Homo sapiens: one gene and its partners. The protein of the gene in region 2 interacts with the protein of the main gene of each other region in a biochemical or structural test. Each region holds a gene or a part of one and is shown on either strand. Other genes may lie near its edges.

Region 1 (7,037 bases), on a different chromosome or scaffold from region 2:
ACCTGAAATGTGGCTGGTACAAAATGAGACAGGTTGTGAGTGTAAAATACACATTGGAATTGTGGCCTTGGTAAGAAACACAGACTGTAAAATATCTAATAACCTTTTACATTAAATATCTATTGAAATAATTGTATTTTGGATGTATGAAATTCAATAAAATCTATTATTGAAATTAATTTCACTTGTTTTCTTTTTAATGTGGCTACTAGAAAATTTGATCTATTGATTGTAATAAATCAAATTGTAATCTATTTTGATCATAAATCTATTTATTTATGATCTATTTGGCTCCCATCATTTTCTTTTCTTCCTTTCTTTCTTTTTTTTTTTTTTTTTTTTGGAGACAGAGTCTCACTCTGTCTCCCAGGCTGGAGTGCAGTGGCGCGATCTCTGCTTACTGCAACCTCCGTCTCCCAGGTTCAAGCAATTCTCCTGTCTCTGCCTCAGGAGTAGCTGGGACTACAGGCACCCACCACCACACCCAGCTAATTTTTTGTATTTTAGTAGAGACGAGGTTTCACCGTGTTGCCCAGGTTGGTCTCAAACTACTGAGCTCTGGCAATCTGCCTGCCTCAGCCTCCCAAAGTGCTAGGATTACAGGCGTGAGCCACGGCACCCGGCCCCATTTTCTTTTGGTTGGACAGCTCTGGATAGGCCATAGGCTGAAGGGACCCCTGGATATCACCTGGCTCAACCTTGTCAGGACCCAGTGGGGGAGTACACAGGCTTTCTGCCCTCCAGCCCTCTCCACTGCACCTAGCTCTCCAGCCCTGCCCCTCTGCCCGCAACCTGGGAGGGTGACCTGGAACTGAGCAACTGGTTCCAGTCCCGACAGCCTGGTTTCAATCCCTGCCCACCACATTCTTATCCCGGGGCCTTGGGCAAGTTATGGATCATCTCCATAGACTCTGTTTCTTCATCTGCAAATGGGAATAATAAGAGTCCCTGCCCGAGTGTTTGTATTTTTTTTTCTAATTTGAGACAAAGTCTGTGTCGCCCAGGCTGGAGTGCAGTGGCAAAATCATGGCTTTCTGTAGCCTTGACCTCCCAGATTTAAGTGATCCTCCCACCTCAGCCTCCTGAGTAGCTGGGCCCACAGGCATGCACTACTATGCCATTTTTTTTTTTTTTTTTTTTGTAGAAATGGTACCTTCCTATGTTGCCCAGGCTGGTCTCAAACTCCCGGTCTCAGGAGGTCCTCCCACCTTGGCCTCCCAAAGTGTGGGATTATAGGCATGAGCCATCGTGCCTAGCAGGGTGTTTATATCAAATGAGATGATTCAAAGCATTCAGCACACAGCCTTGCTTAGGGCACACTCTTAGAAAGGCCTTGGTTGTTCTAAGGACTTTTTTTTTTTTTTGAGATAGAGTCTCGCTCTGTCACCCAGGCTGGAGTGCAGTGGCATGATCTCAGCTCACTGCAACCTCCACCTCTCGGGTTCAAGCGATTCTCCTGCCTCAGCCTCCCAAGCAGCTGGGATTACAGGTGCGCACCACCACATCCAACTAATTTTTGTATTTTTAGTGGGATGGGATTTCACCATGTTGGCCAGGCTGGTCTCGAACTCCTGACTTCAAGTGATCCACCGGCCTCGGCCTTCCAAAGTGCTGGGATTACAGGCGTGAGCCTACCACACCGACCAGCATTTGCTGTTTCTGTCCTGTGCTAATTATGGCTGGGAGCCATTTCAGGGGAGTGGAGGAGGGAGGCTGGCCCCAGGGCAGAGAGGAGGGGAAGGAGGGGAAGGAGGGGAAGGTGTGTGTGAGCTGCACAGCCCAGAAGCTGCCCTGCAATGGTCATAAAGCTGGGACTCTGGCCAGGCCTTTCTCCTCACCCCTCAGATGCCAGTCGCACTGCCCTTCTCAGGGAGGCCCCTGACCTCTGCTCTCTGCCCACGCCACACACTCCTTCGCCAGTGCACTCCCTCCCAGGAACTGGCTTCTTTTCCTCCCGTCTGCTCATGCAATGTGTGTCAGGTCCACATGAGCAGAGCTCCTGCCTGCTCAGAAGCTGACCCAGTGCCCAGCCCTGAGGCCAGGATGACCAGGAACTGGTCTGGCTGAGGGGGTGGTTTTATGTGGCCCTAGGAGGTCCGAGCATATTCTGCACAGCGGGGCAGGGGCTGGTGGGAGGGACTGGAAGCCCAGGGAGCGATGGAATCCACACCCGGGGCGGTTGCTGGGCAGCAGGAGGGCGTGGGCGCAGCCAGGATAGCCACGCCAGCCCCACCCTTCTACTGTGGCAGGAAGGAAGGGGGACGAGTGGGGGTGGACGCGGGCAGTTTGCGGTTTGTCAGCAGAAAAGTTGAGAGAGCTTTGCACGTTCGATTGCAGCAATTCTTCTATTTCCTGTTATCTCTGGGACTCTGTCCTGTTCCTGACTCCACTGACTCCAACCACCAAAAACCACTGGCCTCGCCCCTGATGCCAGCCCTGGAGCCCTGTGTGTATACCACCCCACGTGCACACACGGGCACACACACACACACACACAAACACACAGAGAGGCTCTAGCACTTATGCACATGCACTCGGACACCCACCCTCACATACCTAGACTCTCATAAACACACACTCACAAACACAGACACATGGACTCACAGATACTCACACACTCATAGATATGGGGTGGTACACTCATACATGGACTCACATACATAGACTCACATAAACACACTCACAAACACATGCATGGACTCTCACACACTCATAGATACGGGGTGGTACACTCACACACAGATGCACATAAACACACACTCACAAACACACATGCATGGACACACACACATAGACACTCACACACTCATAGATATGGAGTGGTACACACACACGGACTCACATACATAGACTCACATAAATACACTCACAAACACATGCATGGACACACACACACTCATAGATACGGGGTGGTACACTCACACACGGACTCACATATGTAGACTCACATAAACACACACAAACACACATGCATGGACTCACACATACAGACACTCACACACATAGATATGGGTGGTACACTCATACACGGACTCACATACATAGACTCACATAGACACACTCAAACACATGCATAGATTCACACACATATAGACACACACTCATAGATATGGGGTGGTACGCTCACACATTGACTCACATAAACATGCTCACAAACACACATCCATAAACTCTCACACACCTACACAGGCTCACACACTCACATGCACGCTGTCACTCACACAAACTCACATACACAGACCTACTCACACACACATCCTACACAAACACACAGGCTTGCACTCCTACACTTATGAAGACTTCTTGCCCTTGTTACTGCTCTCTGAAGCCAGCAACTCTCCACTGACACCAGCGTTTCCAGATCCAACCTGGTGCACAGGGACCGAGGGCAGGGGCCAGCCACCTCCCGCCTGTGCTTGTAAGGAAGGTCTCACTGGTAACACAGTCACTCCCATTCGCTTTCTGGGTTGCCTATGGCTGCTTTCCCACCAGAAAGGCAGAGAGGAATAGTGTTGAGTGGCCTGCAAAGCCTGAAATATTTACTGTCAGGCCCTTCCCTTTCCTGCAAAAGTTGGCCAATGCCTCTTCTAGGTTCTTGCTTCTTAAAATGGGTCCCACGGGCCGACCAGCAGCGCTCAAGTCGCCTGGGAACCTGTCAGAAACTTGGAACCCTGAGCTCCACCCAAGATCTACTGGGTCGGAACCTGCATTTTAGCTAGATCCCTGGGACTGCTGGTGTAGACCCTGAGTGAGTTTCAGCCAGGGAGACCAATCACCCCTATTTGCTGAGGACTGAGCCAGGATCTGAGGATGTGAGGCTCTCTGTTTTTAACCCGGGGAACTACTGGTGGGATCAGGATGATGTGGTCGCGAGAGTTGAGGCAGAGGGTGTGGGAGGAACACAGGGTCCCCGCCCTGCTCACCCAGTGTGTTTGCAATGCCTGTCTTCACGTTGTCAGTACAGATGTGGCTGATCCGGTTCTCGTGCTCAGGCTTGGCCAGCACCACGATGCGGATGTTCCAGAGCGTGTGGATGGCGACCTGGTGGGAGGACAACGTTGCAATACTCGGCCCAAGTGTAGGGTGTGAACCAGGGCACAGTGATTCACACCCAGCCCCAGCCGCAGCCCCTGGGTATGGGGTATCCTGTCTGTAATCCCAACCCTTCGGGGGACTCCCAGCGATGCTTGATAGGCGAGACAAAACATCCTAAAGATGAGAACCGGGGCTGACCAAGGGTGGGAAGATAGAGGACTCAGTGGTTTTCAGCAATACCCCACAGATCCCATTTATTTCTGAATACAGACGCATCTCTCAGTGGGGGCCTCCAGACATCCTTGAAAACTGAGAGCTGATAGGCTGAGCCCACCCTTGCCTCTGAGACAGCCCAGCCGAGCAAAGATTCTATCCCGGAAGCCCACCCAGCGTGCAGCCAGCTGCTCACTGTTTTAAAAGTCACACTGGTGATTTCTTGCAGGGAGTGTTTGAGGATCTCCAGCCACTCCTTCTCACTCAGGGGGTCCTCTTGGGTGCCGATCACGTAAATGTCATGGGGGATGTAGTCCGCAGAGTCGTCCCGCGTCTTTCCCTGCCCCTTGGAGAGAAACCAGGACGTGATCTTCTTGGGAGGGGGGGCGTTACCTTCAACAGCAAAACCCAACACCAAGTGAGTCAAAGGCACATCGAGTCAAAGCATTAGGAGAATTCAAAACAGAGGGCGGGAGTGTGAGGGAGGTCACGTCATTACACAAGACCATCCAGGCAGCCCAAAGAAATGCCTGCAATGGAGGCCTGGGCGCCAACCTCACCCAGGATGTCGGTTAGGGCTAGAGCTCAGTTAAGCCTCTTTTTAAACGTAATGTCAAGTTTCAAGGTATAGAAACACCAGAAGATTCCCTGATGTCAGACACTGTCCTGCACTTTGAGGCTACGATAATTGAGACACAGTCCTGTCCCTCAAGGAACTCACATCCTATTCTCAAGACAGCCAAGGGAACTGACAAGTTTTAGATGGCGGGTTCTAACCCATTGTTGGGAGACAACAAAGTCTCCCTTGCAAGACAGATCCCAGCCCAGAGCGGAGGGATGCCTGGGTGTGAGCCAGAGAAACGGGAGAGTGTGGAAACTCCTCCGCATTCCCATTTCAAAACTGAGTTGAAGAAGCTCAATCAAGAAATTTTGAACGGTTCTCCCTACAATGCCCTTGAAGGATGAGCAAACTTTGTTCCTCAAAGAGATGAGCTTCTTGCCTTACAAGTGCAAAGAAGCCAAGCATTGGAGTAAATGGACTGTGGCTAAATTCTGCTCCCCCAAGAGGCTCAAAGTGGGTGCCCGAACCCCCGGGCTGGTGGGTCCCCGGCCCTCCTGCGGCATGGCCTCAGCTGGCTCCTTCCATACTCTTCTGTGGGAAGGGCACCCCTGCCCTTGTGTCATGGACATCCCTGACCATGTCCAGAGGGAGGAGATCAGGCAGACTATTGTCTCTTATTAGAAACACTGAAAGGGACCGAAGGGGACAAGTGACCCCCTGGGGCACTGGCCCGGGCTCTACTCCACGGCTGCTGTGGCCCTGGGACACGAGTGACAAGCTGTCACTTCACTTCCAGGAGGCCCCTGCCAGCCACTGCTCACCCTCTTCCTCCCAGACTCCTCTCAGGACAAGGGTAGGGGACACACGACACCCAGTGAAATTCCAATTTCAGATAAACTGGTAGTTTTTAGAATAAGTTTATCTGGATGTCTTCTATCTAATTTATTTCTACCTGAACACTTACACTAAAAAATTATTTAGTATTATTTATATTTAGTAGAGTGCATGTGTTTAGTAAATACACAATATATATGTTTAATACAAAATATATTTAGCATATATTTAGTATATTATTAGCTGTATGCTTAAACTAATATTACTTAGTATAATTCATATTTAATATAATAATTACACTTATTTAGCATATGTATATATACTATATATTCAGCATAATGTCTATGAGCATATATATTTAGTATTTATTTGTTTGTAGCTAAACATATACTAAAAAAAATTGTTTCTATGAAGTTAAAATTTAACTGGGCATCCTTTGTCTACGTACCTATCTCTCTGTCTCTCTCTGTCTCTCTCCTGATAAATCTGGCAACCCTACTCAGGGTGGACTTCTTTCTCTCAGGCCTGGGGCCCCTTGGTGAGCTGCCTAGGGCTGGCAGGGTTCCCATGAGCCCCTTCACCTAGATATTCAGACTCTTTCCCTAAAACTTTCCAATTTAGACATACAGAGTAACCCACGCCAGCTGCTCTTGGGGTACGATAGTCCCAAAGCTCGTTTTTCTTACCCATCATCTCAGGAAAAGGGTGGAATTCCTCAGGAAGGAGGTTGTGCGGGTGGGCTGGGGCTTAGGGGCAGGGCCCTGGGGCAGGAAGGAAGGGGACATGGATGTCGTCACTCCACCCCACCTTGAGGATGCCTGAGTCAGGAAAGCAGAAGCAGAGGGGGTGACTGCAGGGAGGGGGCGCGCGGACCCACCCATGTTCCAGGTGCCGATGAAGATGGTGATCATGTCGGGCTCCGGCTGCTCTGAGTGCTTGTTCTTCATCTGCTGCAGGAGCTGGCAGAAGCCTTCTCTCTTCTAGGGATGGAAGGGCAGACAGACTTAGAAAGGCCTCTGCCTCCCTGCACATTACACTTTGCAAAGGACTTGGTCAGCTTCAAGAAAACTGAGAGGAGCGTAAATCAGTGTGAACTTCCAGGACAGCAACCTGGAAACATGTGTCCAAAGTCATAAGCGAGTGGCTTCTGGCCTAGACACTCCCCTGCAAAGGTGCGACTTTAACAAAGTGATCAGGAGCTGCGCAGAAGTCCAACCCTGTCACGGCTCTGCAGCACAGGCCTCAGCACAGAAAAAAATCAGAAGCAACCTTACTGTCCAGCCTTAGGAGATTCATTAATAATGTATCAGAGGGCCAGGTGTGGTGGCTCATGCCTGTAATCCCAGCACTTTGGGAGGCCGAGGTGGGTGGATCACCTGAGGTCAGGAGTTCG
Region 2 (7,037 bases):
GTTGTCTTTTGTTCATTGGTTTGTTTTTTTTCTTTTTTTTTTTTTGAGACAGAGTTTCACTCTTGTTGCCCAGGTTGGAGTGCAGTGGCGTGATCTCGGCTCACTGCAACCTCCACCTCCTGGATTCAAGTGATTCTCCTGCCTCAGCCTCCCAAGTAGCTGGGATTACAGGTGTGCACCACCATACTTGGCTAATTTTTGCATTTTTAGCAGAGATGGGATTTTGTCATATTGGCCAGGCTGGTCTCAAACTCCTGACGTCAGGTGATCCATCCACCTGGGCCTCCCAAAGTGCTGGGATTACAGGCGTGAGCCACCGTGCCCAGCTTGTCGGTTTGTTTTGATCTTGCTTGGGGTTTGTAACACATTTTACAAATCTATCTTGATGGCTTTTGTCAGTTTTGGGAAATTCTTATCTTTTATCTCTTTTGCTTAGTTCCTCTTTCCTCTCTCGTCTCCTTGCTTTCCAATTACACTTAGTTTAGGGGTTTTGTTTTGTTTTTGCTATATCTCAAATATCTTTTACACTCCTTCTTGTGTATTTTTATCCTTTTGTTTTTCTTTACTTCACTCTGGATATTTTATAACAGTTTTCTAATTCTCTTTTCAATGGCATCTAAATGGCCTTTTTAACCTTTCAATTGAGTTTGTTTTACAGTTATTTTACATTTTATTTCTGTAATTTTCATTGAATTCTTTAAAAAAAATCCAATTTCAGGTAACTATTGCTGCATAATGACCTACTCCAAAATCCAGTAGTTTAAAACAACTACCTATTTAGTTAGTGATTCTGCTAGTTGGCAATTTGGGCTGGGCTCAGCTAGGTGGTTCTTTTGGTTTCCTCTTGCATCAGTCATGCATGTGTGGTCAGCTGCCAGACTGGCCACGGGTGGCTGATTCATTTATTTATTTTTTATTGTTTTTTGAGATTAGGTCTTGCTCTGTCATGCAGGCTAGAGTGCAGTGGCATGATATCTCGGCTCACTGCAAGCTCCATCTCCCGGGTTCAAGCAGTTCTCGTGCCTCAGACTCCCAAGTAGCTGGGGTTACAAGTGTGTGCCACCATGTCTGGCTAATTTTTGTATCGTTAGTAGAGACGAGGTTTTACCATGTTGGCCAGGGTGGTCTCGAACTCCCGACCTTGAGTGATCTGCCGGCCTTGGCCTCCCAAAGTGCTGGAATTACGGGCATGAGCCACCGCACCAGGCCAGGGCTAGCTGATTTAGAATGGCCTTAGCTGTGTTGGCTTATCTCTGTATCATGTGATATCTTATTCTCCAGCAGGCTATTTTAGGCTTGTTCACAGGTCAGCCAGATGAGGTTCCAAGAGAACAAGTAGAAATGTGCAATGCCTTTTCAGATCTAGGCTTAGAACTAGCAGAACATCATTTTTGCTGCGTTTCATCATGAAGACCAGCCCAGTTCCAAGAGACAGGGAAATGAACCCCATTTCTTGATAACAGAAGGAGCTGTAAAGTCACATTGCAAGGACATGGTATTTTTGCATTCTATCACGCTAGTTCTCTGCTGAAATTCTTAAACTTATGTTTTATTTCCTTGAACATATTAGACATGATTACTTTAAAGTTTATGACTGACAACTCTATTATGTAGATGCCCTGTTTGTTGGTTTCTGTTGTCTCTATTCTTCTGTTGGTTTTTGGAGATGTTTCCTTTTCTTATACTTCACTTTGGATATTGTGTATGAAACATTCTAGGAATAATTTAATGCTCTGGTTGATGTTATTTTCCTCTAGTCATAACTTATATTTGCCTCTAGTTGGCAGCCAGGTTAGGGCTACCAGAGATTCCAGATCATTAGTTCAATCCAGGGTTGTGATGATTCAAAATTGAGCTTCAGTTCCTGTGAGGGCTGTTCATTTCTCGTTCACTCTTACTCTTTGGGTATAGCCCTCTGTGGTACCAACCTCAACACTGATGGATTTTATGTATACCCGCTTTCTAATAGGAGGGACGTGAACTTCATGTTCTCTTAGTTCCTTGAGTTTTATTGTGAGCTCTGCTCAGCTTCTCAGCCTTTTAGCTGCCATTTATGGAATCAGAAGATGCCTCCAGGGAACAACAGTCAGAAATGCTGATCTCACCTCTCTGAATTTCCTTCTTCCAGATATTGGCCCCATAATTTTTCACTGCTTTATAAACTCTCTGATAACTTTAACAATGTGCTTTTACATGTTGTTCATTTTTCTTCTAGCTATTTTTAGTGGGAGGATTGGTTAGCATGTCTTAACCTGGATTTTCATTACATAATTAGAATTCCTTCGATGATTTTTTATCTCAACAATTAAGGGGATGCTGTAGAATGAAAGTGTTCTGTTTCCAGATCACAAACTCTCTGGAGTCAGGAATCATGCCTTATACATGAAGAGGCCCTGCCTCTTCAGGGGCTGGATTGCAGTGGGACTCAGTAAGGACTGAATAATTGATGAAGACAGTATATGTCCTCCTTGTAGGTTTAGTAATGATTTTTTCCATTCACCTTTGTTCTCAGGGTCTTTGTGCAATATTTGGTAGGTTGACTTGTTCTTATAAATAGTGCTAGGATCGTAGGAGACAGAGACACAGAGATGCACAGCACAGTCTCTGCTTTTGAGAAGCTTTTGGTTTGCTAATGGGCAGAGCCAGTACAAGTCATATAAATATAAATGGGAACCTATGTGTTTTAGTCTTAGGAGCATCAAGATCAAAGAAACATATTTCATCAAACAAATAGTATTACAAGTCCTTTAATTATTTACTTAGTCTCTTGAGAAAATGCCAGGGTGAAGCTGTGGCTTGGAGAGACTGCATTCATAATGCACTGGACATATAAAAACCCCTCTGTCTCAATTGCTCTCTTCTTAATAGCCTCCATTTTAACGGAGCCACTTGTAAAACTCTCCCCATCTCTTATTTTCTCTTCCAAATCCTCCCTGAGCCTCCCCAACTCACCCAGAGAGACTTTTTAATTTCCTGCACCTGCTGGGCCATGCCACATAGCTTTATTACTAAAAATGGCTGTAGGAACTTCCAGTTTTGTACACTGACTGCACAGAATTGCTCTAGGTTGTCACACCCCCATATTCATTAGGTTTCATCTTGATTCTTTGAGAGGCAAGTGCTGGGATCTGCCTGGGAAGTGTAGTTTTATTTTTAAAATTGTTTTCTAGGGAGAAATTTTTGTGGAGACTTTCTGATCACTGAAAAACTGGCAAACATCAATAAGTAATGACCAAAATCCAATGAACCAAGTGCCACGAGAGAGGATTATGTATTCAGCTCTGTGAGAGGATGGTTGAGGGGCCATGAGTTCAGCTTGGACGGTTAGTCTTCCTGGGCCTGACCATTCAGAATTTCCAACAGTCACTACTTGCCATTAGTAGTTGCCTCAGCACTGCTTGGAGGGAGTCACCTTAGATGTGGTATTTATAGCATCATGGTTAAGAATTTATCCTCTCAAGCCAAACTGCTGTCTTTACAAAGAGTAAACAAATAAGCTCCCTAGCACCTGTGCTCCCAGCTACTAGGGAGGTTGAGATGGGAGGATCACCTCAAGCCCAGGAGTTCAAGGCTGCAGTGAGCTGTGATTGCGCCACTGCACTCCAGCCTGGGTGACAGAGTGAGACCCTGTCTCTAGAAAACAAAACAAAAGAAAACAAAAACATAACACCAAACTGACTAGGTTTCAGGCTCATCATTCTTTTAACTCATCATACCTTTTAACTTAAATAGTTAAAATGTATAAAGTGTGAAACCTGCCTGTCACATAGTAAGTACTCAAGATTTTAGCTATTGGTCTATGGGATCCCTCAGACTAGGGACACAGAGCTTGGGGACAAGGGGAGGCAGATGGAGGGGATATGCTTTAAGGTGCTCCTAGGTTCTGGGCTCCTCATACTCATCCCCACCCAATTGGCTTAAGGGAAGTCACATCCAGCTGCCCACATTGCTCAGGCCTGACACTCTTCCCGCTACTTTCAGCTTGGGTTCTCTTTCCTAGGATGCCAGGGATCAGCTGACCATGTGGTTAGCATCTCGGGAGTGCCTCTTCAGTTACAACCAAACAGCATACAGACGAAGGTTGACAGCATTGCATGGAAGAAGTTGCTGCCCTCACAAAATGGATTTCATCACATATTGAAGTGGGAGAATGGCTCTTTGCCTTCCAATACTTCCAATGATAGATTCAGTTTTATAGTCAAGAACTTGAGTCTTCTCATCAAGGCAGCTCAGCAGCAGGACAGTGGCCTCTACTGCCTGGAGGTCACCAGTATATCTGGAAAAGTTCAGACAGCCACGTTCCAGGTTTTTGTATTTGGTAAGTCTCCAGGACTGTTCATACTGCCCTCTCTGATTCCTATAGGCCTCTAAGTTCTGTATTTCCAATGCCTTTCTGATCAGAATCTCTGCTTCCAGATAAAGTTGAGAAACCCCGCCTACAGGGGCAGGGGAAGATCCTGGACAGAGGGAGATGCCAAGTGGCTCTGTCTTGCTTGGTCTCCAGGGATGGCAATGTGTCCTATGCTTGGTACAGAGGGAGCAAGCTGATCCAGACAGCAGGGAACCTCACCTACCTGGACGAGGAGGTTGACATTAATGGCACTCACACATATACCTGCAATGTCAGCAATCCTGTTAGCTGGGAAAGCCACACCCTGAATCTCACTCAGGACTGTCAGAATGCCCATCAGGGTAAGTGGAACACACTGGGCTATAACAAGCGCTGAAGGTTTGGACCCCGCAACCAGGCTCATGTGCAAGACAGATGTGGTATGAGATAAAATCCCTTGGCCTCCTCTCCCAGTGCCTTGTAGCCCTTCCCAGGGTAGCCCTGGCCTCCAGGCACACAGTTCCTGTAAAGCTAGGCCTATCCTACTCTGGAAAAAAATGTTATCCCTATTTCCTTCTGGGAGATGCAAGCTTTTCTTCTGCAGAGGGAGGGCATAGTTGTTTGGTGAGTGACAGTCCTGAAATGGCTCCTGAACATTATTTTCTTCCTGGGAGAGGCTGATGGAGAACTGTCCTCTCCTCTTGAGTGATAACTTTCTCCAAGCCACATAGTTCAAGAGGTAACTACACTGTGCAGCAGTAGCCTGGAGCAGGAGCATCAGGATGACCCCAGGGATACCTAGATGAGTTCTTGGGCTGTTGCTTATGCTCATCCTAAGAGTTACCTGAGTTACCGTTCCACAACTTTTTATTACATAAACAGGGACTTAATGTACCAGCAGCATGGGCATTATAGGAAAAAAAAACCATACAGCTCTCATTCATAAGGAACTTATAGCCAAATGGGGCAACAAAAATAACTACTTGTGGACAAAAAAGAAACAAGACTGAGGCAGGCCGGGCGCAGTGGCTCCCTGTAATCCCAGCACTTTGGGAGGCTGAGGTGGGTGGATCACAAGGTCAGGAGTTTGAGACCAGCCTGGCCAACATGGTGAAACCCTGTCTCTACTAAAAATACAAAAAATTAGCTGGGCGTGTTGGCGGGCACCTGTAATCTCAGCTACTCAGGAGGCTGAGGCAGGAGAATTGCTTGAACCCAGGAGGCGGAGGTTGCAGTGAGTCAAGATCATGCCACTGAACTAGGACACTGGCTTCATCATTCAGAAGCTCTGTGATCTCTTAGAGGTCAGGTGTGGTGGCTCACACATGTAATCCTAGCACTTTGGGAGGCTGAGGCAGGTGGATCACTTGAGTCCAGGTGTTTGAGACCAGCCTGGACAATATGGTGTAATCCCATCTCTATTTAAAAAAAAAAAAAAAAGAAGCTCTGTGATCTCTGGCAGATTCATTAACCTCTCTGAGCCTCAATTTTCTTCCCCCCTTGAGTAAAATGGGGGTGATAATAAGTACCTCACAGGATTGCTGTTAAGAGTAAATGAGATAATGTTTGCAAAGAGCCTTGTCAGCCCTTGGAACACTTAATTCCTTTTCCTTCCTCTTGTTGGCTGGATTATATATCAGGCTACATGTGTGACACAAATCTTTTAAGTAGAAGTTCAAATGAGGAAGAGCCATGAAGGAAGGAATAGTGGAAAAGTGAGACGGAAAACTTGCCTGTACAATGAGTATTTTTTGAGTTAAAAACAAAGGAATGGATAAATGTAACATTTGTTGTGCTACATGTCCCTCAGTATCCATGACGAATTAGTTCCAGGACCCACCTCGCAACCACAGATGCCAAGATCCACGAATGTTTAAGTCCCTGGCATAAACAGGTGCAGTTTTTGCATATAACCTATGCACACATCCTTCTGTATACCTTACTTAAGTCACCTCTAAATTAGTTATAATGCCTGATACAATGTAAATGCTATTTAAATAGTTGTTATACTGTATTGTTTAGGGAATAATGACAAGGAAAAAGGCCTCTACATATTCAATACACATGCATTTTTTTTCCCTGAATATTCTGGATCCACAATTCATTGAATCCACATTGTGGAACTCAAAACTTTGGAGGGCAACTGTATTAGATCATGTAATTAACCCCTATAGGTAGATAACGTTATCCCCTTTTACAGGTGAGAAAATCTAAGAGGCTCTGAGGCATCTTCCAAAAATAAGATGACTTGAGAGGCCCAGAGAGGTTAAATAAATAGTGCAGAGCTCACAGGGTTAGAATTTGAGCCAGGCCTGTCTGATATATCTATGCTCTTGGCATCACTCAGAGGAGGTTAACCAAATGAGCAAAGAGAAAACCTTGACCGTGAGTTCTCAGAGCACGAGGCAATCAGCCACAACACAGAGAAAAGTGGGTTTTGAGGCAGCCCCTGCAGCAGGCAGGTGGGAAGGAAGAAGAGAGCGAGCTGACAGCTCAGTTCTCACGCCTTCTGTATTCCTCAGAATTCAGATTTTGGCCGTTTTTGGTGATCATCGTGATTCTAAGCGCACTGTTCCTTGGCACCCTTGCCTGCTTCTGTGTGTGGAGGAGAAAGAGGAAGGAGAAGCAGTCAGGTGAGTGGAAGGTCCTTAGGGTGGTGCTCCTGCCTGAGGCCTTGGATCCTGTGACTTTGTCCTGCGTCCAGTGG
Region 3 (7,037 bases), on a different chromosome or scaffold from region 2:
CAAGAGCAGTTAAAATGTTATGGGCTTATAGAATTTTTGATGTTTTTACAGAGATTTATTAAAAGTTATTAGAATAATAGATGAAAATTATAGCACATAAATTGTCACCTCTCATTTGACTTGCTGGCTACATCTACTTTCTCACTGCATTTTTCTTACATAACTTCTAATTGATTATATGGTTATGAACAGGTTGACTCATAACTCTGAGCTTCCAAACCCTGTCAAAAATTAAGAGGAAATCATACCTGTAGTACCTTGTGTACTTCTAGCTGAGGACTTCTTCTCAACTGGATACTGCAGAGGTATTACAATGCCTTGATCTGGCTTCTGAAATGCTGAAATGAGATTTTTTATTTTCCGGAAATATCTTTTATGTACCCCAGGTGCTGTCTGGAAAATAAAAGGCCAAGCAAATTATTTACCTATCTCATAATGATACAAAAAGACCTACAAAATGTGCTAGGGATGCTAAGAGAAGTAACATTTGTGTAACTTGTTGAAATATTTGAAAACATAAGGAAGAAGGAAAAACAACATTCCAGAAGAGCTTACTTTGGTTGGCTGAATTTCCCTGCAAGAGGAGCTAATGAGCTGTCATTTCAGTTCTCCCAAAGGTGGTATTAGTTTGTACAAGCTCTTGCTCATTGCCCTGCCCTTCCTGCCTGCTCCCCATCAGACATCTCAAACCTCTAAGGGTATACAGGCCATTACCCACAATGAATTCACCAACAGAGGGGATGCAGTTAAACAGGAAAAAACAAAAACAAAAACAAAAAAACAGATCCTACAGGTCATTAATAAAAAGCCTGAGGAACAACAACAAAAGAAAAACCAACAACCCATCCTCCCTGCCATCATCCCACAATATAAAATGCTACACAGGAAATTAAAAATTGGCTGTTATGATGCACACAGTGCACGGCTAGTTCAGTCCTCATACTCTTTCACCTCACAATATTTCCTGCGCCATTCTTCACATTAAATTTTTTCCTCCTTGGGAAACTTCCCTATACTCCCAAAATTGTTCTCTCCATCAGCACGTCACTGTAACAAGGTTTTCTCTATGACATGAAAATGAAAGACTATATAAGGTCACCTTTATTTATTTATTTGTGTGTTTTTAAAGAGACAGTTATTTGCAGGTGACTATTAAAATGTGTTCCTTTCCTGACATCAGTTGTCTTGCAAAGACACTGCCTGAAATCAACAACAATTTCCTGCAAAAGCTTATGAGCCAAGCTTCAGGCATCAGCTCAAACCTGTCATTTTACGTAAAATAAAATAGTATTGCTATGAGCAATTGAACAATGACTAGTTTTTTTTTTAAGTTGTTTTTCAGCTATTCCATCTGGTAGATTTTTGAGGTGGGAGCTGTTTGTTTTTTTAGCATTTAATGAGAAAACATGAAGGCGAGCATGAAGACTTCTGTCAGCTAGATAGTGGTATGCTGAAGATAGCATACTACACTATCCATAGTAACTCTCAGTCATTTCCTTATGTTGGGGTAATTTTTCATTGAAAACATGACAAAAATTCTTTTTAGCTCTATATTAGTGTTCCCCCATATGTTCACAGTAGATGTAGAACACTCTCTCACCCAGCTCCACCCCACTCTCTCACCTACCCTCCACCTTCCTAAAGCTCGATTGAGAACTCATCCAAAATAACATGGCCATTCTTGCAGAAGTCCAAACAGTTCGTTGGTTCCAAGATAGAGTCTCCAAATTGCAAATGCAGGTCATAGGCACAAATTGCCTCCTTATACTTTCCTCAGTGCACTTTTTCATTTTCAAAGCACATTCCTATCTCTTGCCTTCACTATTTCCTCACAAAATGGCAGTTATTGGCTGATTCAGTTATTCCCATTTGACAGATAAGAAAATATGAATGCAAAGAAATTAATCAGCTTGCCCAAAGTCACACAGACAACCAGAGGCAGAACTGGCTCAGAATCCCAGGACCCAGTCTCTTGCCTTTCAGATTAGAACTGGGCCAAACAGGATCTAGCGAAGCTAGGGTCATCAAACAGAAGAAAAACTATACACACCTAAAGTGTGGAAAGATTTCAAACCACACATCTTTTTAGCTTCTTGTGGCTTGTAAAGTCATTTATCAACAGAAGCATAGCCGGGCACAGTGGCTCACACCTGTAATCCCAGCATTTTGGGAGGCTGAGACCGGCGGACCACCTGAAGTCAGGAGTTCAAGACCAGCCTGGGCAACATGGTGAAAGCCTGGCTTTACTAAAAATATGAAAATTAGCCAGGTGTGGTGGCAATCCCGGCTACTTGGGAAGCTGAGGCACAGGACTCACTTGAACCTGGGAGGCAGAGGTTACAGTGAGCCGAGATCGGGCCATTCCACCACTCCAGCCTGAGCGACAGAGTGAGACTCTGTCTCAAAACAAAACAAAACAGAGAAGCAACATTTTTATGGGTACTGATATGTAGCTAACACTTGATTATCCATGCTAACAGAAATGAATAATAGCACTGGAAGTATGGAAGCTATTTGAATTGGGGATCTGATGTTTCATAAGCAAATGACTGGCCTATTTTACAGTGTTTTACTTAGATTAATAAGGACAATTATTTAACATCTGCTGATCTCCTGATCATATACCCAGTAAAGCCTGAAGACACTGATGTCAACAGGGTGATGTCAGTACATTTTTAATAATGTATTGCCAACAAATCACATATTAATAAATGAAAGTAGATTGTGGAATTATCTAAATTAACAATGTAACAAACTTTTAGTCTGAGTCATATAAGATAATACACTAGGCAAAGATTTAACCTAAAAGTCTCTCTAAAACTAGAAAAACACATGATATCTGTCTTTCATAATTCAGTGGGGCCAGGGTTTGATTTCATTACACTCTTTAAAACAAATCTCACTTACCTAGATTTCTAGCATAATATATGCACAGATGGTGGCATGCTACTGCCTTGATTTTTCCTGCAGCATGGCAAACTAAAACATTGTTCCAAAAATCAGTATTAATATCTATCATTTACCCAGTTTCGAAAATACATTTATCACAAGAATTGTACCACTGACAACTCTCATCCTGTCACTGAACTCAGCTATTCTTCAAATTTGCAAATCTCCCATACTGTCACCTCTTAGTTATCCATGGAAACATGTATTAGATCACAGCTGGTCTTCAATATGCTCTAGAGAAATTTTTTCCAGTCAGGTGGTATGAGCTCTGAGAATATACACTAGTTTAATTTTCACCTTAGAAAAGCACTGCTAAGAAGGTAAATTTAGTAGATAGAAAAAAATGCAATATGCATTTCAAAAATTAAAGAATTTTTTAAACTATTTTCTATTTGCGGATGTCATGCCAATCTTCTGCTCTCTTGGTGCAGAAAATTACAATATTATTACATAAACAACGTCAGATCAGACAACAGGATGAGGGGGCATTTGTGTTCAATAAGCCCTCTCTTCTTTAACATGATCACAAGCATGTAACAATCTCATATGATGTTATACTCAAAATGCAGGAAAACAAGTTGAAAAACAAAGTTGTTAAACCCTAAGCATTTAAGATCCTTTCCTTACATAATATTCTTCAGCAGCTGAAGGGTATTTCTCTGGGGAGAAGAGCTATTTCTGGCGAAATAATATACAAACGTGTGTGTGTGTGTGTGTGTGTGTGTGTGTGTGTGTGTGTGTGTTTGTCAGTATATTTTACACATAACTTTCTTCATAATAAAGTTTAATTTCTTATTCAATCATCTCTGCAGTGATACAGAGAATTTTTTAAATAAACAGGTATAAATAGTTTCAATTAGAAATGGTATAACTTTATCTTTAGTTAGTATTATAGTTTTAATGATCCTTACATAATACAGCAAAAGTGTGTTTGAAAACTTGGCCTAATTCATCTCAGTGGTTCAAAACATTTGTGGTCTGTAATTTATACTTTCCAACTTACTGATAAATCAGTAAACGTGAGAGCTATTTTAACTTCTTGAAGTCTAGACTTCAGAAAATTTTAAATGCACAGATTGAGTTATTAATAGGAGTTGTGGCAATTTTCAGGAGTTCACTTTTTTGAGGGCTCACTGTGTGCCAGGCCTTGTGGCAAACAGCTTCTTTATGTGTGTTATCTTATTTACTTTTCAAATTGAGCCTTGTGCATAAGGGAGGATTCTTAGGCTCCGTTTACAAATGAAGAAACTGGCTCACAGAAAAGTCAAGTAACCTGCCCAAGATCATAGACCTATCAGAGAGGAGGGGAGACCAGACCTGGAACCCAGATTCACCTGTTGACAAAGCCTAGTTTCTTCCACTCATAACTGTTTAATTTCAAGTTATAACTTCCCAAGTATATTGTAGTCTCTTAGAAAATAAGCATCATGTTTTTTAATCTCCCACGATACCAATACTCATATTGGTATCATTTGGTAAATAATTGTTCATTTAATTATTTTACCTACTTTTGATATGCTAAGATTTCACATAGTCACTAAAAGTTTGACATAATTCTTCAACTTTTTTATCTTTCTCCCAAAGTCATACAACTCTGCAAAATGATGGCTAAACAGGACTGGGACCAAAATTCTCTAAAGCTTTCTTAATGATCCATGAACAATTTTGGATTGGAGCTTTAGAGATTTAAACCTTATGAATACTTAATAATGTATAATTTGCTCTTTTATAAAACCAGCCTAAATTTCAAATACCTCCTTGACACCCCCAGAAGCAAAAATAAATACAACTATACCTCAGCACTCCAAGAACCTGTTTCTGTCTGGGACACTCGGTATGTATAAATGTAACCGTGATACCTGTGAAAGAATAAACTTCCATTACTGAAAGATTCCAAAAGAACAATGGATACTTTAAATTTGAGCTTAATATTACATATAAATGTCACATATACTAGGACACACGTATATGGTGTCATTGCATTCATAGGAAGTAAAGCATAGTGAATCTAACTTGTCTCCATATTGTATCTGCCCAACCACAGTTTCCAGTGAGATTTCTTTATCTTTTCATTTTTTGAAATATGGAAATTCATGCTCCTAAAGATTTGTCAAGTTGAGAGACCATTTGGACAGAAAGAAACTACAACAGGGACCTGTTGTAATTGATAAAACCATGAATTATTAGATAGTTTTAACAAACAATAGACTTATTTTTAAGTACATATCGAAACTTAAGGTGAAAACATTTCACTGGGATAATACACTATCAGGCCCACATAAATAATTATTAATATTAATAATATTTGTTATAAATATAATGGCAATAGTATAAGGATATAATACTATAAATTGAATATAACTATATTTTTATAAAATTACTATTATAATGTATAGCAATATAATATTGCCACAGTCATGCATCACTTACCAAGGGGGATACATTATGAGAAGTGCATCATTAGGTGATTTCGTTGTTGTGCAAACATCATAGACTGTACTTACACAAACCTATATGGTATACCACCTAGGCTATGTGGTATAGCCTATTACTCCAGGCTACAAACCTGTACAGCATGTTACTGTACAGAATACTGTATGCAATTGTAACATAATGGTATTTGTGTATCTAAACCTATCTAAACATAGAAAAGGCACAGTAAAATATAGTATAAAAGATAAAGAATGCTATACCTGTTGAGAGTACTTACCATGAATGGAGCTTGCAGGACTGGAAATTGCTCTGGGTGAGTCAATGAGTGAGTGGTGAGTGAATGTGAAGGCCTAGGACATTACACTACTAGAATGTTATGAACACTGTAAACTTAGGCTACACTAAATTTATTTTAAAATATTTATATTTCCCAGATCACGAGGTCAGGAGATCGAGACCATCCTGGTTAACACAACGAAACCCCATCTCTACTAAAAATACAAAAACTTAGCCAGGCATGGTGGCACGCACCTGTAGTCCCAGCTACTTGGGAGGCTGAGGCACTGAGGCAGGAGAATCGCTTGAACTCAGGAGGCGGAGGTTGCAGTGAGACGAGATCACGCCACTGCACTCCAGCCTGGGTGACGGAGCGAGATTGTCTCAAAAAAAAAAAACTGTATCGCTTCAATAATAAATTAATCTTAGCTTCAACTCTTTTACTTTATAAACTTGTAAATTTTTTTAAACTTTTTGACTCTTTTATAACACTTCGCTTAAAACACAAACACATTGTACAGCTGTACAAAACTGTTTTTCTTTATATCCTTATTCCATAAGCTTTTCTCTGTTTCAAAATTTTTATTTTATGTATTCTTTGCTATTTAAACTTTTTTGTTAAAAACTAAAACACAAATACGCACATTAGCCTAGGCCTACAGAGAGGGTCAGGATCATCAGTATCACTGTCTTCCACCTCCACATCTTATCCCACTGCAGGATCTTCAGGTGCAGTCACACACACGGAGCTGTCATCTCCTATGATATTCATATTCCAGAATGCCTTCTGGAATACCTCCTGAGGGACCTGCCCGAGGCTGTTTTACAGCTAACTTTTTTTTATATAAGTAGGAGTAGATTTTAAAATAATGATAAAATGTATAGTACAGTAAATACATAAACCAGTAACACAGTAATTTGTTATCATTATCAAGTATTGTGTACTGTATGTAATTGTCTGTGCTATACATTTTTTTCTTTTTCTTTTTCTTTCTTTTTTTTTTTTTTTTTTTTTTTTTTGAGATAGAGTCTCGCTCTGTTGCCCAGGCTGGAGTGCAGTGGTGCAATCTCAGCTCACTGCAACCTCCGCCTCCCGGGTTCAAGCAATTCTGTTTCAGCCTCCCGAGTAGCTGAGGCTACAGGTGCATGCCACCATGGCTGGCTAATTTTTGTATTTTTAGTAGAGACAGAATTTCACCATATTGGTCAGGCTGGTCTTGAACTCCTGACCTCAGGTGATCCACCCACCTCAGCCTCCCACAGTGCTGGGATTATAGGTGCGAGCCATCACACCTGGCCTGTGCTATACTATTATACAGCTGACAGCACAGTCGGTTTGTTTATACCAGTGTCATCACAAATACATAAGTAATTCATTG

Evidence for each region.
Region 1: the proteins of CD244 (region 2) and INPP5D interact in a biophysical measurement, tested with the Homo sapiens proteins (2 studies listed by IntAct).
Region 3: the proteins of CD244 (region 2) and SH2D1A interact in a biophysical measurement, tested with the Homo sapiens proteins (2 studies listed by IntAct).

What each region holds. Positions count from the first base shown.
Region 1 is NC_000002.12:233,161,311-233,168,347, reverse strand, and holds part of INPP5D (phosphatidylinositol 3,4,5-trisphosphate 5-phosphatase 1), read right to left. Parts: intron 6,625-7,037; coding exon 6,522-6,624; intron 4,642-6,521; coding exon 4,445-4,641; intron 4,042-4,444; coding exon 3,924-4,041; intron 1-3,923. UniProt on the Homo sapiens protein: Phosphatidylinositol (PtdIns) phosphatase that specifically hydrolyzes the 5-phosphate of phosphatidylinositol-3,4,5-trisphosphate (PtdIns(3,4,5)P3) to produce PtdIns(3,4)P2, thereby negatively regulating the PI3K (phosphoinositide 3-kinase) pathways.
Region 2 is NC_000001.11:160,838,865-160,845,901, reverse strand, and holds part of CD244 (natural killer cell receptor 2B4 isoform 1 precursor), read left to right. Parts: intron 1-4,000; coding exon 4,001-4,318; intron 4,319-4,401; coding exon of another isoform or gene 4,402-4,416; coding exon 4,417-4,692; intron 4,693-6,852; coding exon 6,853-6,963; intron 6,964-7,037. UniProt on the Homo sapiens protein: Heterophilic receptor of the signaling lymphocytic activation molecule (SLAM) family; its ligand is CD48.
Region 3 is NC_000023.11:124,363,532-124,370,568, reverse strand, and holds part of SH2D1A (SH2 domain-containing protein 1A), read right to left. Parts: intron 4,809-7,037; coding exon 4,745-4,808; intron 394-4,744; coding exon 249-393; intron 1-248.